Linked DNA regions of Homo sapiens: all the other regions are linked to region 3. Evidence: fine-mapped expression QTL. A gene starts in region 3. Each other region holds a variant in brackets. All regions are shown on one strand. Distances are from middle to middle. Region 1 overlaps HDGFL2 (HDGF like 2). Region 2 overlaps SH3GL1 (SH3 domain containing GRB2 like 1, endophilin A2). Region 3 holds the start of UBXN6 (UBX domain protein 6).

Region 1 (2,745 bases), 45 kb after region 3:
GTGAATGGCGAGGCCACATCACAGAAGGGGGAGAGCGCAGAGGACAAGGAGCACGAGGAGGGTCGGGACTCGGAGGAGGGGCCAAGGTGTGGCTCCTCTGAAGACCTGCACGAGTGAGTGTCCCGGGCCGTGGGGTTTGGACTCCTGAGCGGCAGCGGTGTGACGCGCACCCTGGGTCCGAGCCGCTCCTCCTGTGCCAGTCCCTCTGGGATGGGTCCCAGGGATGTCGTCCTTACTCGGGCCTCCCACCTTCACAGCTGACCCCAGGGCCCCGCTGGCTGGCACTTCCGGCGGCCCCTACAGAGAGGCAGCTCCAGGGCTTTGAGCTGCCTGCCCCTGGCCTCCTGGGAAGGTGGCTTCTTGCCGAGCCTCCAGGGTGGCCCAGGTAGGTAGGCCCCGAGCACGGGCACCCGGCTATCTGACGGTGCCTGTGCCCATCACTGTGGGCTGCTGTCTGGTACAAGGCTCAGTGGAGTCACTCACTTACCCAGCAGCTGCCTTGTGCTATGCCTGGCTGGCGCCAGCGTGGGGACCCTGGAGATGGTTGTGGTCTCTAGTGGCAGAAGACAGGCAGATAGGAGGGCGGCACTCGAGCCTCAGGTGCCACAACGGGGGTACACTCCTCGGTGCCCATCCCACCCAACCGCCCTACAGGCAGGGCAGGGGCGGGAGGGCATCCTCACACCGCCTTTGCTGTTCCCACCAGCAGCGTACGGGAGGGTCCCGACCTGGACAGGCCTGGGAGCGACCGGCAGGAGCGCGAGAGGGCACGGGGGGACTCGGAGGCCCTGGACGAGGAGAGCTGAGCCGCGGGCAGCCAGGCCCAGCCCCCGCCCGAGCTCAGGCTGCCCCTCTCCTTCCCCGGCTCGCAGGAGAGCAGAGCAGAGAACTGTGGGGAACGCTGTGCTGTTTGTATTTGTTCCCTTGGGTTTTTTTTTCCTGCCTAATTTCTGTGATTTCCAACCAACATGAAATGACTATAAA[T/C]GGTTTTTTAATGAAAAAAGAAATCACTTTTATTGGCTTGGTTTTCTAGCATTGCTGGTGCAGTGGGGGCCTGAGCTGGGGCGCAGGCGGCAGTGTCACTGGGCCCGTTTGGGACTGGGTTGAGCCATCAGGCCACCGTGAGAAGCGACTAAAAGGCACTCTGGGCCCAGCCCAACCCTGAAAGGCCAGTGGCAGGAGAGCTGGGCGGGAGCAAGCTCTTCCCAGGAGACAAGAGGGACAAACCAGGGCATCTAAGCTGTGCTGCCTGCGCCCTGCCCCGCACCCACGAGGCTGGGGGGTTTGATGCTTCCTGCATCTGGCAGCCCAGGGTCCAGGCAGGTGAGCAGGTCCGATGTGGGGAGGACGAGGGTCCGCGAGGCTAGGCTGGGAGGGTGGAGACCAGGCCTTCCCTGAGAGCCGCTGCTAGCCGACAGTGGTCTCCAGCGTTCAGGGAGCATGGGCCTCAGGGGCCAGCCTCGACTCACCCCAGCTGTGTCACCCACACACCGTGTGACTTTGGACAGGTTCCCCTCCCACTCGGGGCTTCTCTTTCCTCCTCTGCATAAGGGGCTGTCACGTGGGCACGGTCCCAAGCAAGTCACCCCGTGCTCCGAAGTTGCTCATTCCACAGTGGCGTCTCGTGTTTGTCGTCCTGCCCAGCGTAGCCGAGTTGCCTCCGTCCCAGTAAGAATTAGGCTGTGGTGTGGCGGGAAGGGACTTCCTGAGCTGCGGCCCCATGCTTGGTTGGCTGGACGTGAGCTGCAGTCACTGTGCCTGATTTCTGCAAATGGCTGTGTCTGGCATCCTAGCCTCCGATGGCCATGGGTGTCGGGCTGAGGAGAAGGCTTGGGAAGGCTCCTGACCCGTCCCCTCTCACGGCCCGTCACCTGAGGCAGTCCTTGCCGTGCCAGCTTCCCCGGTTCAGAGCTGAGCTGAATGCCCCGGCCCCTCACGGCCCCTGGTGCACACGGTGACCCCTGGGGCCCCTCCACCCTTCCTCCCCCTGGGTCTGGGGTTCCTGGGCTCGTGTCCTAGGAGAGCATGGAAAGGGGACGACAAGGTTCTCTTACCGGGTGAGTGGGGATATGGCTTCCTGGGGAGGCCGGGCTGAACGGCTCCTCCCCGCTGGACTGAGCGCAGCCACGGCACGTCTCACACCCGACCTGAGCCTGCCAGCCTCCACGACCTGGGCTAGCCTGAGAGCACGGGGCCCGGCGGCCGGGTCCGCCACCACCAGTGTCTCTGATGCCTGCAGCCTCCCCAGCCCCGCTTCCTCTGCAGCCCGGCGCTTGGGTGGGCCTGAGGACCCAGGGGGAGTGTGCGGCGGAGGAAGGGCTGTGCCATAGGCACGCAGCCTCTGTGGCTGTTCCCAGCCCTGTCTGATCCCTCCATAGGGCACAGTTCCCTGCGGGGAAGTCCTTTGTCTGTGTTCTCCAGGGGCAGCTGCTGGGCCCAGCCTCCCCAGGGGCCTCAGAGCCCCAGGTGCCTGGGGCAGGCCTGTGGTGGGCAGCTGGAGGCAGCAGCAGCCTGTTTGCTTGTTTTTTGCACCCCCCACCCCCTGCAAACTGCTCAGTCTCAAGCCAGGCTGGTGCAAAGCCCCAGCTGTGGCTGCTGTGGCTCCTGGCAGCTTTGTCCCCACCGTGAGGCCACCCCGGGGGTCAGCAAAGGCAGTAGCAGCCTGCCTTGGGATGATGATGGCAGTGTCGCTTTTTCTAGTACTTTCTACTATGAGGGAATGTGGTTCTTAAGACCCTCAAGGTG
Region 2 (2,752 bases), 67 kb before region 3:
GCTCCGGCGGCAATGGGCTCATATTCCAGTGGCAACGGCAATGGAATAATCACTCCCATTGGCATGAAACCATGTGGGGAGCTGTCCACTTGGGGGCCAGGGCAGAGGAGACGCATGTTCCCGGCCCAGGGAGGGGAGTGGGCCCACTCACCCCATGCCCTCGCAGGCCTGATGCCATCTGGATTCTGAGTATCTGCCATGACCACCGCCCCTACAGACTGTGTCACACGCGGCATGACCCCTGCTGGGTGCTTCGTCCCCTTACCCAGGTGTGGAACTGCGGCCCGCTAGGCGGGAGCCCCCTCCCAGGCGGTCAGTGGGCCGCTGCTGAGTCAGGTCCAATGGAGGAAACTGTCCGTCTATCTTCCTGCTGTGGTGAGGAGGTCTCCCCGTGACCCTGCTCTCAGGGCCTGGTCAGCAGGTTTTTCTAGGAGTGGAGAGGAAAAGGAAGACAGGGCCGTCCTCCCAGAGCCTGAGTTCAGGGAGCCCTGGGTACTGCTTAACAGGAAATGAGCAGAAACGCACCAAGCTGCAGTGCTCAGGAAAAGTGCTTGCCAAATCCAGCCCTGCAAAAGGCGAGAGATAGAGAAAGAGAGAGACAGGCAGGCAGACAGACAGGAAGAAGGTGTGGAGAGGACAGACAGAGAGAGAGGAAGAAGAGGTGAGAGGGCAAAAGAAGGGAGAGACAGAGAGAAAGACAAGGGAAGAGTGAGAACAGAAAGAGAGGAAGAAGAGGGGGGAGAGATAGGGAGAGGAGGGGAGAGAAGGGAGAGAGGGAAACCCGCTGCAGCCCTGGCCACCACATTCTTTCATCCGCTTTCCAGGGACAGCTTCGAAAAAGAACCAGAAGAGACCGCCCCCTGACACTTCAGCTCACACATTAAAAAGCCATTAGAGTTGGAGAGCTCAGGTCCTGCTGAGATGCCTCCAGAGCCTGTTGAGCTCCTGACACCTACCCCACCCCCACCCCGGGGCAATGCTTCCCCTTCCAACCCTCCCGGCACTTAAAGACCTCAGGGGCTTGGAAAAGAGAAACATGGAGGCCGCTCTGAGCTTCTCCTCTAAGCTCTGCCCCGGGCAGCGCCGAAACCTGCGGCTGCCTCCGAAATCCTACTGGGGACGTTGGCAGCATGCTCCAAATTAAACACGACGTTTCCCCAGATCAGATCAGTTGCAAAACACTGGAAACAATCACGGAGGAGGAAAAGGGCTAAGGCAGCAGTGAAGGCTTGGCTGTACCCTAGGCCCCTGGATTAAAGTCCACTGGACACAGAGACACAGGCAGGTCTGAGCGGGACGGGCCTCAACCTGCAGGTTTCTCCTTTGAGGAAAAAATGCAACAGACACACACACAGACATCTGAGGGGCCCAGCTGCCAGCTCAGACCTCAGGTGCACTGCGCACGTGACAGCGGCCACCCCTGGGTGGCCAGGGG[T/C]GGGGTGAGCAGTGTCATGTTCTCTGTGTGCTTGATAGGTCTGGGGTGTCAAAATGTGACAGCCCCCAATTTCTTCAACTGAGCGGCATAAGGTGAGACACCTCATCTCGCACTCACAGGCTGTTATTAGGGGCACCTGGAATATAATTAAGTACTGCAGAGCTGGGCTTTAACACACACCCAGATAAGCAGGGCGATCAGCACCCACGGAGCCCCAACTGGTCTTTGGTGAACACGGGATTCTGAGTCAGAGACAAACTTTTAGCCGAACTTTCAGCCCTTGACTTGTTCTGGGACCTACTGTACAGCAGTCACGGGTGGCAGAAATCGGAGTCTGATGACCCCTTGGTCCTGGTTTGTTAAGAATGGGAAAACGTAGGATGCTGCTTGGTTACAAAGTGCCCAGTGACCACCAACAGCCAACCCTGTGAAGGGGGCCAGGTGAGCCAGGTTTCACAGACAGGCCCGGGGAGCCGTGGGGTGTAAGGAGCCTCTAGCTTCCTTTGGGGAAAGGCAGTCTCAAACTTCTGTGTCTGCACAGCCCAGCTGGCACACAGTTCAGGCCTCCACACAGCTGCTGGTTCCACCCGTCTGCAAGCCAGAAACAGAGTGAGCCCTGCCTGTCCTGGGGTGGCCCAGGGTCCACGCCGCCGGCTCCAATGCCGGCTCCAATGCCTCAAGGCACACACCAGTACATGCCGCACGTTCCTGGATTCAGTCACCAGAGCTTCCTGCAAGAACGGACTTAACTCCATTCCCATCATACGTGGACATCACAAAGCAAAGTCCCTTCCTACATCTGTTGCCAACACCTCCCCGAGGGAGAGGGGGCTTCCGGAGGTCAGCCTGCAGCTGCTGGACTCACCGGCCTTGTCCCGGGCACAGCCTCTGAATCACCAACGCCGGCCCTTACCAGCCCACACAAAAGTGCCTCTCAACTACCTGTCACTCCCAGCACAAGGGTATACACTTTTATCTGTGCCAAGGTGAAGGGGTTATGAACCCCATATTTTTGTATCTTAAGATTATTCCCACTGGCTCACGCCTGTAATCCCAGCACTTTGGGAGGCAAGGCAGGGAGATCACTAGGTCAGGAGTTCAACAACAGCCTGGCCAACATGATGAAACCCTGTGTCCACTAAAAATACAAAAATTGGCCAGCTGTGGTGGCGCACGCCTGTATTCCCAGCTACTCAGGAGGCTGAGGCAGGAGAATTACTTGGACCCAGGAAGCGGAGGTTGCAGTGACCTGAGATCGGCCCGCTGCACTCCAGCCTGGGACAGAGCAAGACTCCGTCACACACACACACACACACA
Region 3 (2,752 bases):
CCCACTTCCTGCCACCTCCCTGCCTCTCCCAGCCCCCACTCCCTCACAATCCCTTCCACTATTGCTTACAGACCCGTGTCCTGGCTGCCTGGCTGACTTCCTCAGTCCCTCTCCATCAGTCCCCACCACCCTCTGGCCAGCCAGCTCCCTGCAGCGGCCCCAGCTCTCCAGTTTCCCTTTTCTCAACCCAACAGCCCTCAGCCTTGCACCTTCCCTAGCTCCACTTCTTCCCCGGCCCTCCCAGCTGGCTCAGCCCTGCTCAGGCCCTTCTCTCCAAGTCCTCCCTAGACAATCCGGAAGCCTGCCCGGCATCTATCTCCTTTCCCCTCCTCTCCCACTTCCATAATCCACTTGGCACAGTGACGTGGCAGAGAAGCCTCGCAGAGAAGCTCTTTCTCCCAGCCTGCTAAGACGCGTCTGTCTCACCCGTCTTCTCCTCTCAGGCCCCTCCCGGGTAAGAGTCCATCTGTCAGAATCCCTCACCTCCACTCTCCTCACACACCTTCCTCAGCCCCTCCCTCTCAATTCGCCAGGACATCCCAGGTCACTGACGACGCTGCCCACCCCGGCCTCCCTGGCCTTCCAGACTCTTTCTAGTCTCCCATCAGCCTCCCACGTGCTCCAGATACCAAATCCAGAACCCCTCTTCCCATGGATACCTCAAAACAACTCTTCACCACCCCACCCCACAGCTGTGCGTCCTCCTCCAAGCTCAGCTCCCATCCATGGTCACCTAGATTGCCCCAAATCATCCCGGCCTCTTCGGCCAGCCGGGTCCCCAGACAGAGCTCTCCCTCACCACCCGGCTCAGGACTCATGATCCCGTTTTTCCCCAAAGGTCGTTCCACTGACCCCCAACTGCCTACAGCCCCGTCGCCCTAATCCCCCGCCACTGCATCGGACCCTCCTGCGGCCCCGCCCCCGAGACCTCCCCTCCCGCCCCGCCCCCTGCGCTAGTTCCCCTCCCCTCGCCTCCCCCGCCGCGCCCCCGGGTCATACCCGCCCCCTCCTGCCCCGCCCCCAGATCTCTCTCCCCTCCCCCTGACGCCCACCCTCGGCCCGACTTCGTCCGCCCCCGGCGCCTCTCCCCCTCCCCTGACCCTCGCGTGCCGCTCCCAGCCCCTCATCCTCTCCGATCTCCCGAGCCGCCCAAGGCCCCAGATCTCTCTCCCCGGCCGTCCCCGCCCCGCAGGGCCTCAAGCCCCTGCGTTCCTCACGCACCCCACGGACTCTTTGAGCTTCTGACCGGGTCCCGCGCTCTTGAACTTGATGTCGGCCTTGAACTCCTGAAAGAATTTCTTCATGGTGGCGGCTGGCCCGGCGGCGGGGGGCCGCGGGGGCGGGGGGGCACGGGGCCCAGTCGGGGACGGGGCCGCCGGAGACCAGCCACCGGAAGAAAATTAAAAAAAAAAAAAAAAAAAAAAAAAAAATTTACCTCGCCGCCGGAAGTCCCGCCTTCCCCTGGCCTGCCACGTGACAATCGACTAGACGTGCCTCTCTAGCGCTCGGTGCCTTGCTGGCCCAGGGCGGCCGCTCTGTACGCTGGAGCCGCGTCTCTGTGGTTCTTCCGGACTCCGTTGCCAGGGCGACGAGTGCACCTCTCGATTGGAGACAGGGCATTCCGTGGCGCTCCCCAAACGGTGACAAACGGTGATAGGACAGGGACAGGCCAACTGAACCTCGCAGAGAAAGCACTGGGCCCTATCCCTTTCGCTGCTCAACCTAAACTAGGCGCGGTGGCTCACGCCTGCAATCACAGCACTTTGGAGGCTCAAGCGGAAGGATTGCTTGATCCCAGAAGTTGGAGACCAGCCTGGCAACATGGCAAAACCTCGTCTCTATAAAAAAAAAAAAAATAAAATAAAATAAATTAGCCGAGGGTGGTGGCGCGCGCCTCTCAGCTACTTGGGAGGCAGAGGCGGGAGGATCGCTTGAACCCAAGAGGTCGAGGCTGCAGTGAGCTGTGATCAAGCCACTGCATTCCAGCCTGGGCGACAGAGAGAGACCCTGTCTCAAGCAAAACAAAAAAAATTCCAACCTTCTCTGTCTCCCCAGAGCTTACGTGATAAAATCCCAATTCAATGTTGGGTATTGGAGGCCCCCACGATCTGGCCTGTTTTGGTGCCTGAAGCACCCCCCCGCCACCATCACCACGTACCCTAGGTAGGAGCTGTTTAAGAGGATGCACCTGGGCCGGGCGCGGTGGCTCATGCCTGTAATCCCAGCACTTTGGGAGGCCGAAGCGGGCGGATCACAAGGTCAGGAGATCGAGACCATCCTGGCTAACACGGTGATACCCCGTCTCTACTAAAAATACAAAAAATTAGCCGGGCATGGTGGCAGGCGTCTGTACTCACAGCTACTCGGGAGGCTGAGGCAGGAGAATGGCGTGAACCCGCGAGGCGGAGCTTGCAGTGAGCCGAGATCTCACCACTGCACTCCAGCCTGGGCGACAGAGCGAGACTCCGTCTCAAAAAAAAAAAAAAAAAAAAAAAAAGAGGATGCACCCAATGCACCCAATTGGGACCTGGGGATTGGGGATCCACTTTGGTGGACACCAGTTAATAGTGGCGTACTTTGGTCTGTGCAATCCACAAAGAAGATACACAAAGTGACAGTTAAAACAAGCCTCAAAAAATGGGAGTTGGGGGTCAGACGTGGTGGCTCATGCCTCTAATCCCAGCACTTTGGGAGGCCGAGGCCGGCGGATCACTTGAGGTCAGGAGTTTGAGACCAGCCTGGCCAACATGGT

The links. PIP is the estimated chance that this variant, and not a neighbour inherited with it, causes the effect. A credible set is the group of variants that fine-mapping cannot tell apart.
Region 1: its variant is the best candidate, but not a certain one, in a credible set for the expression of UBXN6 in whole blood (INTERVAL, PIP 0.74).
Region 2: its variant is the best candidate, but not a certain one, in a credible set for the expression of UBXN6 in whole blood (INTERVAL, PIP 0.79).

What each region holds. Positions count from the first base shown.
Region 1 is chr19:4,501,205-4,503,949 of GRCh38, forward strand. It overlaps HDGFL2 (HDGF like 2), which reads left to right. Exons shown (of 16, transcript NM_001001520.3): 15 at 1-113; 16 at 707-1,003. The coding sequence ends at 806. It overlaps PLIN4 (perilipin 4), which reads right to left. Exons shown (of 8, transcript NM_001367868.2): 8 at 988-2,745. Among named protein-coding and RNA genes, the nearest start is that of PLIN4, 16 kb to the right of the region's middle. The variant T/C (reference allele first, on the strand shown) is at 985.
Region 2 is chr19:4,389,787-4,392,538 of GRCh38, forward strand. All of the region lies in intron 1 of SH3GL1 (SH3 domain containing GRB2 like 1, endophilin A2), which reads right to left. Among named protein-coding and RNA genes, the nearest start is that of SH3GL1, 9.4 kb to the right of the region's middle. RefSeq lists enhancers at 1-225, 226-832, 833-1,441. The variant T/C (reference allele first, on the strand shown) is at 1,436.
Region 3 is chr19:4,456,394-4,459,145 of GRCh38, forward strand. UBXN6 (UBX domain protein 6) reads right to left here and starts at 1,401. Exons shown (of 11, transcript NM_025241.3): 1 at 1,222-1,401. The coding sequence starts at 1,304. RefSeq lists silencers at 1,203-1,272, 1,303-1,352 and an enhancer at 1,463-1,662.